Linked DNA regions of Homo sapiens: region 1 is reported to be linked to region 2. The links are microRNA targets in miRTarBase. Many come from high-throughput screens and were not tested one by one. Region 2 holds a microRNA gene; the other region holds the end of a gene's coding sequence.
The links. The annotated mature microRNA hsa-miR-320b reads AAAAGCUGGGUUGAGAGGGCAA and lies in region 2 at 1,568-1,589, shown strand. An mRNA with a match to its seed (bases 2 to 7 or 8) in the 3' UTR can be bound and repressed. Matches are read on the target gene's strand: a 7mer-m8 pairs with bases 2 to 8, a 7mer-A1 pairs with bases 2 to 7 and ends in A, and an 8mer does both.

Region 1: miRTarBase lists ZNF507 as a target of hsa-miR-320b. Seed matches in the 3' UTR shown: 7mer-m8 at 2,374-2,380 and 7mer-A1 at 2,392-2,398.

What each region holds. Positions count from the first base shown.
Region 1 is chr19:32,382,402-32,386,796 of GRCh38, forward strand. ZNF507 (zinc finger protein 507) reads left to right here. Exons shown (of 7, transcript NM_001136156.2): 6 at 66-200; 7 at 316-4,395. The coding sequence ends at 682. Among named protein-coding and RNA genes, the nearest start is that of DPY19L3-DT, 21 kb to the right of the region's middle.
Region 2 is chr1:116,670,220-116,674,614 of GRCh38, forward strand. MIR320B1 (microRNA 320b-1) reads left to right here and starts at 1,527; the gene lies at 1,527-1,598.

The DNA of each region.
Region 1 (4,395 bases), not on the chromosome of region 2:
TCATGATAATTTTTCACTGATGTTATGGGACCGTTCTGATTTTCCCTTGCCTGCCTGTCTTCCAGATGCTCTCTGTGTGGGTATGTGTGTAGCCATCCTCCTTCTTTGAAGTCTCATATGTGGAAACATGCAAGTGACCAAAATTACAACTACGAACAAGTAAACAAGGCTATTAACGACGCGATTTCACAAAGTGGCAGGTATTTCATCCTACCCCCTCCCTTTATTGCTATATGTAAATTAAAGCCAGGATTAAATCTACTAGTCCTACATTGTAGCCTCCTCACGGTGTGCTGTGTTTGTTTTGTTTTTAAGAGTTCTGGGGAAATCCCCTGGAAAGACTCAATTAAAGAGCAGTGAAGAGAGTGCAGATCCCGTCACTGGAAGTTCAGAAAATGCAGTGTCATCTTCAGAACTGATGTCCCAGACTCCCAGTGAAGTTCTGGGTACCAACGAGAATGAGAAACTGAGCCCTACAAGTAATACCTCATATAGTTTAGAAAAAATCTCCAGTCTGGCCCCTCCTAGCATGGAGTACTGCGTTTTACTCTTCTGCTGTTGTATTTGTGGTTTTGAATCAACCAGCAAAGAAAACCTCTTGGATCATATGAAAGAGCACGAGGGTGAAATTGTAAACATCATCCTGAATAAGGACCACAATACAGCTCTAAACACAAATTAGGTGGAATAATGACTCGAGCAGGAAAGCAGTAGAAGAGGATTCCTTCACCACAGTTTCACCTTTACGCTGTCAGACAACTTCCTGCCACAGAAGAAGTCGTTGATGTGATTTTTGAGGAAATGACAGATGTGACTTTGGAACCAAACTTGTAATAAAAGGAATTCCAAATGGACAAGCAGTAATGATATTTAAATATTTTGAGTGAGGGGGAGTGGGTCAAAGAGGAAGTAGAGGTGTAATCCTGTATTAACCCTCTGTCACCCCTTCTTAGTGTCGAGTGTATTTATTAATAAAAGCTTATTAGAGTGTAGAAATGCCAGCAAGAGTTAAGAAAGGGCTTTTCAGGAACTATTCTAAAAGTCATAAAAGGGTCACAGTCTTAAGCAGAGCTTAGTTTTCTTCTCACTTGTCAAATGCAGACTGTGAGGCCTCCAGTGAGAAATGGGAGGCAGTTCTGGGAGGGGGTTTTTTCAGTGTCACCAACAGAGTCAACAAGGAAACATAATTAGAGGGCTTTGAAATGATCTACTGAAATACCTAAATTGATAGAAATTAATCATACTCAATCTAGGACATGTTCCTTTACTCCTTAAAAAAGAAAGGAAAGATCTCTAAATTCAAAGCTAGATTGTAAATAGGCATTCAAGAAGTATTGTCTTAAATTTACGATGAATTTCTTGTGAGCAGAGGACGAAACAGGTGAATTCTCACCAGACTCAAACCAGATCTCAATTCGTAGTAATGCTAAATCGTCTTCCGTGTTCTCAGAGGTTCTTTTCAGTGTCTGTCAGAACTTGGCATACTTTCTCCATAGTACGTAGACCTTCTAATACTCTGCTAAATGAAACCACACTTGTTATCTGAAAGTGTGTGAAAGAAACAATGTATGAAAATTTACATTTGATCATCCGGCATTGGAAATAGTTTGAACTATTTCCAAAAATCCCTTAGGGGATGAGGGGTGAAATTTAAAAGCTCCTGAAAATGAGTACTGCTGTGTTGAGCTTTTCTTTCCTGGGGTATATTAATTTAGTTATATTTAGCAGAAGAGGAATATAACCAAATGTGACTAAAATATAGCAGAAATTCAGGTTGTTTGTAAAAATTTTAATAACAAATAGCATTTGGCAAGTCTATAGGATTCTTCCTATCTGGAAATTCTATTTTGTTAGAGTGCGATAGGACATATGGAAAACCAACACAAAGTGCTTTAGCATTAAAACTCACCATCAAATAGATGTAATCTTATTAATTACACATTTTGTATTTTAATTATTTCAAGGAGTGAAGAAAACAGGGTGTTTTTGTTTTTGTAGTTCTGATTACTCATTTATGCATTGTTTTGTTTAAGTAAATTCTGCCTACAAGTGAAAAGGTCGGTGCGCTCTTCTGTGCACCATCCTCACGGTGCTATTTCCGAATATCTGAATATTGATTTCTAACACCTGGATGAGGCTGTGACCGATCAACTTGGAACACTGTAAAGGTTTTCGAATGGGATACGCTGTAGGCACGTTTTAAGAAGTATTCTGTTCCTAAAGTCCAGGTATGATTGGATTAATATTTATAAAATTATTATTAGGAATTATTTAAGTGGGGCCAGGCATCTTGCAACATTTTCTGATTTTTTTTTCTTTCTTTCTAATCTCATTTTGGTGATATTTAAACAAACATAAATGATTGTAACTTTGCAGCTTTTTTATTTAGGTAGCTTTAATTTATTTATGAAAGTTAATCCATTTCTGATACGTGGTTTTTAAAAATATGAAATGGATTTATATATACTATATTCCTCAAATCCACTGTATGTGGACTTATATTCATTTTCTCCTTTTTTCGGAATTGAAACATTTTAATTTCAAATTCAAATAGAACATTTAAAATGATTTCATTATTATTACCCATACTGTTGCCACTCATATTGTAAGTCAGTTTTTTCATTGCTGGTACAATGACTCAGTATTTCTTTATAAAAATCTGTTGTTCTGAAAATCAACAACCTTAGAAGGATTTTGTCTTAGAAAATTTCCTTGGCTTTAGTTTTATATCATATTTAGAAAATAATAATGAAAAGCATCCCCAAAATTTCAATGATGTGAATTTTTAAATTACCTTTATTTCTTTAAACTAATTCCATTGATTGTTACTTAAATTTTCCACCTGGAATCATGGATTTAAAATTTCCCCACCTCATGGGGAAAAAACTAACCCAGAAGTTCAAAGCCTTTAAAGTTTCATCTGATTCTGGCCTTAGAATTGTCCTTAAAAGCTTTCTCCTGGCCGATAGGAGGAAGCATATATCAAGGAGGTTCTTTCCCTTCCCATTATCATTTTGTGGCAAGCCTTAAGTTAACAATGTGTCTACCAAGAACAATTGAGTTTTCTAAAAGTAATAATGAAGATTATGCAATTCTAACTGTAGAAGAGATAGCTATTAAAATAATCAGTAGCCTGGGCATAGTGGCTCACACCTGTAATCCCAATACTTTAGAAGGCCAAGGCTGGAGGACTGCTTGAGTCCAGAAGTTTAAGACCAGCCTGGGCAACACGGGGAGACCCTGTCTCTACAAGAAATTAAAAATTAGCCAGGCATAGTTGGCACGTGCCTGTAGCACCAGCTACTTGGGAGGTTAAGGTGGGAGGATCACTTGAGCCTGGGAGATAGAGGCTTGCAGTGAGCCGTGATGGCACCATTGCACTCCAACCGGGGTGACAGATGAGGTCCTCTGTTTACCTCCCCCCCCAAAAAAAAAATTCAGTAGGAATTCCTTCATAGAATAACATGTTATTTATTGGTATTGACTTCTTATTAGACAGAGCTCATAGTATTTGTTTTCTGCTCCGAACACTTAAAAAATACTAAGACGTGATAGTGAAAATAGCTTTGAAAAGAAACTACATATGGCAAAGGTGGGGAGGGGGGAAGATGATGCATTCTGATCATTATAAAGAATACTTTTCAGGGCTCTATCATTTTCTCCCTTTCTCTAATCATCCAGAATATGGCGGGTGTCCCAGTGTTCAACAGTATCATGCTAATATTCCATTTGATCGGTAGTCCAAGTTCTTTGGCCAGATAGTGCAATGTTGTGACACCGACCGAAGCCTTTGTTCTGGATCTTTCTTCCTATTGAAGGTGGCTGCTGGTGGCTTCATAATTTTCTGTTTTTTTTCTCACAAAGTAAATGGTGGGCATCCATGTTTACATTGCACCTTCCCGTGCTGTAATTGGCTTGACAAAGACAAGCAGGCTTCTCTGTTGAGACTTATTGTGTTTTTAGTTTTCATAGACACTTATTTAATCTTTTTAAATTGTACAGCAAGGTGCTCTAAGTAATATTCGATAAAATATATTTAATAGAAATTTGCGTTTGATATTCATGAACATGAATACATGTATTTTTTTAAGAAATAAGTATTGTGTAACACTATGGCATTGCTTCTATAGCCAAAGTATAAAAATTTCTGGAATACTGACATGTAAAGACTACAGTTAATTCTGACACTGTATCTTATTAAAATAGGATGATTTGCATTTTGTAAAATTATCCTGCACATCAAGCTGCATGCCTTAAAGCGGAAACTCTAGGACTGTGTTCATGGGAGAGCAGTTCATCTGTTCAGAACAGTGAGGCAAGGTCTGTAGTGCTTCTTTAACTACCTTTGGAAATACTGTACAATGTTAGAATAATTTATTTTGCTTTACAGGAGTT
Region 2 (4,395 bases):
TTCCATTGCGCAGGTGAGAGATGATCACAGCTTAAACTAGGGTGGTGCTGATGCAGGTTGTGGAAATGGGTGGAGTCTGAAAGCATTTAGAAAGCAGAGTCAATGAAATTCTCTGAAGAACTGAATATGGAGGGGGAGAGAAAGAGAAGAGTCAAGGAATCTTCCAGAAGGGGCATCTCAGCCTGCTTTGGAACTCTCTGACCCCCACCAAGGTGTACCCCCATCAAGGTGCAAGACTGTACTTTCTGAGGCCTCTGCCTAGGCCTTCATCCTTGAACCCCTATACTCAATTATCCCTTCTCTATTACTCGTTCTTTCAATCTCAACCTGCCCCTCTTCATACTACTTGGCCCCTTGCATCCTTCTGGATGATCTTTCAACCCTTGACTTCCATCACCACCCAGATGTGTTATGGCTGATTCCCAGCATGGCATTCTTTCTAATTTCCACATCTACGATATGCAAAGAACTGTGCAAAGTGTTGGATGGGGAGACAAAAGTATAATTTAAAAGAATGCCTCTGCCCTCCAGACATAGAAACGATTAAATGAGTCCTGAACAGTGATGTGATGGTGGCCCCTTCAGGAGTTCATCAGCAGGCAGAGAAGTGAATTGGAGGCTGGGTACAGTGGCTCACCCCTATAATCCCAGCACTTTGGGTAGCTGAGGTGGGCAGATCACCTGAGATTGGGAGTTCAAGACCAGCCTGACCAACATAGAGAAACCCTGTCTGTACTAAAAATACAAAAAATTAGCCGGCCATGGTGGTGCATGCCTGTAATCCCAGCTACTCAGGAGGCTGAGGCAGGAGAGTCTCTTGAACCCGGGAGGAAGAGGTTGCAGTGAGCCAAGATCGTGCCATTGCACTCCAGCCTGGGCAACAAGCTCCAGCCTGGGCAACAAGAGCGAAACTCTGTCAGAAAGAAAGACAGAGAGAAAGAAAGGAAGGAAGGAAGGGAGGGAGGGAGAGAAGGAAGGAAGGAAGGAAGGAAGGAAGGAAGGAAGGAAGGAAGGAAGGAAGGAAGGAGAAAGAAAGAAAAGAAAGAAAGAGAGAGAGAAAGAAAGAAAGAAAGAGAGAGAGAGAGAGAGAAAGAGAGAGTCCTAAGGGAAGGAGAGATGTCAAAGGAGAGGAGTGCACCGAAGTCCCCAGTCAGCAATGTCTGGTGCCCGGGCTGAACATTCCAGCTTGCTTCAAAACATTCTGCATTTGAATTTTGAAACCTCTACTGCACCGGCCTGGAATCAGTTGTTTATTTTGGACATTTTGGAAGACTCCTTGATCTTGTCCATCAGGGAGTTAAATGCAGAAGCCTGCAGAAGCCGAGCTGAAGCACAGTGCCAGGGAGTACTGGGGCCTGTGCACCCAGAGCACAGCCTGAAAGAGCACGCACAGCTTCAGCAAAGTGTTGCTGCTGGGAAGGAAGGTGTGGTGTTGCCTGATTTTCCTACTTTTTAAGAGAATCAGGAAATCCACATTAAAAAAAAATTATTCTTAATTTTGCTCATTGGAAACTAGTGTTTCAAAAATAAATTAATCCCTCTCTTTCTAGTTCTTCCTAGAGTGAGGAAAAGCTGGGTTGAGAGGGCAAACAAATTAACTAATTAATTAACTAATTAAACACTTTGGGGGGGCCAACACAAAATTTTTTCGTGGATAAGATATGGCCAAGTGGTTATATCAGTTTGAGGTTTCTAGACCTACCAATAGCTATAACCAAAAGGCTAATATAAAACCACAAATGGCATAGAGTTACATGTTTTAAGGGGAAAAAAATGAAGGGTGTTAGCCAAGTTATCCTTCATCACTTGAAAGAAGATTGAAGCCAAGGCATTTTGTCTAAGGATAGGCTGATACTGTGTACTCACAAGCAACTGATGTTAATTGTACTTAATGTACTTCAAAATGCCAAATGAAAAGAGCAAACCTCCCTACCTCACAAAACAGCCAAGTTGGAGCTAAAAGTGTCCCACTCAACAATTCTCCCGAGAGCCAGCTTTCTTCTGGGTGATTACCCTCCTACACAGGCAAGGATCCCCAGAGCCGAAGACTAGGAATAATTTACACAGGACACCATCTGTCTTTTTTTTTTTTTTTTTTGAGACGGAGTCTCACTCTGTCACCCAGACTGGAGTCCAGTGGTGCAATCTCGGCTCACTGCAATCTCCACCTCCCGGGTTCAAGTGATTCTCCTGCCTCAGCCTCCTGAATAGCTGGGATTACAGGCACTCACCACCATGCCTGGCTAATTTTTTTTTGTATTTTTAGTAGAGATGGGGTTTCACCGTGTTGGTCAGGCTGGTCTCGAACTCCTGACCTCAGGTGATCCACCCACCTCGGCCTCCCAAAGTGCTGGGATTACAGGTGTGAGCCACAGCGCCCAGCCCCCACCATCTGTCTTTAAAAAAAGAGAGAGAGAGAGAGAGAGAGAATTGACTATGATATCTTGAGATCAGGGTAGCCAGTGGGTAGTCCCCAAAGGCTTTATCCACAGGTGGGTGTTCAGAACCTGAGATGCGCCATCTAGCGTTAGAGAAGGGTCTGGATTTGCGCCCCCGCCCCCGATGGAGCTTCGAAGATGACTTTATCCCACAGGGGGAAATAAGATTGTATTCAGCTAACGTTCTTCTTTCCTCACAAAACCCCTGTGCTGTGTTAGCTTATTTTCTTGGATGACGGCGAAGAGCGAATCTGAAGAAGAACGCCTGGGCTTGTGTCCCAGATCTGCACTTATTGACACCTAACTCCCCAGTCAAGTTACTTAACCTCTCTTACTCTGGGTTCCTCATTTGTAAAAGGGGATAACAAATACCACCTGCCCTCGAAGGGAGGCTGGAAGGATTAAATAAGTTGACATATGGAAAGAACTTAGCAAAATGCCTGGTATTTAGTTCTCAGTGTTCATTAGCTATTCTCTTCACTAATCATGTACTTTACATGGTCTAAGGAGAGGAAACCAGGAGTCAGAAATTCTAGCTTCCAGTTGCTGCTTATGCTGTGTTTTGACCTCTCTGGACCTAAGTTTCTTCTGTAAAATGAGGATGATGACCAGGCACGGTGGCTCATGCCGGTAATTCCAGCACTTTGGGAGGCTGAGGCGGGTGGATCACCTGAGGTCAGGAGTTCGAGACCAGCCTGGCCAACATGGTGAAACCCTGTCTCTACTAAAAATACAAAAAATTAGCTGAGCATGGTGGCAGGCACCTGCAATCCCAGCTACTTGGGAGGCTGAGGCAGGAAAATCGCTTGAACCCAGGAGGCGGAGGTTGCAGTGAGCCGAGATTGCGCCATTGTACTCCAGCCTGGGTGACAAGAGCGAAACTCTGTCTCGAAAAAAAAGAAAAGAAAAGAGGTTGATTAGACTAGTGAGAAAGTCCCAAACTGGCTGTGCATGAGTTACTCACAAAGCATTTAAAGTGCAGATTCCCAGGCCCCATTTAGAAGATCCTATTTCTGAACATATGTCTGAGACTAGTCTAAGAAGACTTTTAAAAGGGATCTTTCAGGTCAAAATTTTATGATGGATTTTCACAGATTCATGATCCCATCCCCTCTGTCCAAGTCCATTTTTGATTGGGATTGAGAATTCCCTCAACTGCATAGCTTGACCCCAGATCAAAAGAATCAGAGGAGCTCATCTCTTCTACCAGTATTCCATTCTGAACTTAGTTCTCACCACGGTCAACAGGCTCCCGATCTTTCCCAGCCCCAAACCTTGAGCATTTAATGACTCTCCATTCGTCTTTTCCAAAATCTCAGCAAATCCTGATTTTTTTCTTAACTCAATAGCCTTGCATCTGCATCTCCTTACATCCAGCTCTGGCTCTTGGCCCATGCTCTTCCCTGTATGGCCTCCCTCCCTTTGCTAAAGAATTTAAAGAACCCAAACCTGTGGGTAGGCTGAAAGCCATGACGCTTGTCACGTTGGAGTAGCTTTTCTGAATTAGATTGGCTGACCCCCAATCTTTCTCTCTCAACGTCCCAGGGCAGCTGGGCTGTCTGCCTGGGCTGGCTGCCACTTTCAACCATGCTGTGGTCCAGGTGGAGGACTCTAAGAATTTGACTTGGCCTCTCCAATGAAAAGATGTTAGTTTGATCACAGAGCGTCTGTCCTTGCACAAGGAAAAGTGTGTCACCATATATCTGAGATTCTAAGAATCCAAACAACCATGATATTACAGCAGAATGGAGCCTTGTAGATGGGATGTTTTTTCTGAGACATCTGTTACCCCACTAGTCGCCAGGGCTGTCTGGCCTGATCTGGCTGGCATGTTGCCTCTCCCTGTAAAAGAGTGCAAAGACATTGGCAAATCTCACCCAAATATATATGAATTTGGCTGTCAGTTTCCAAAAGTTCACTTGGAAGTTAATTATTTGGAACTCAGAACATATTTTCC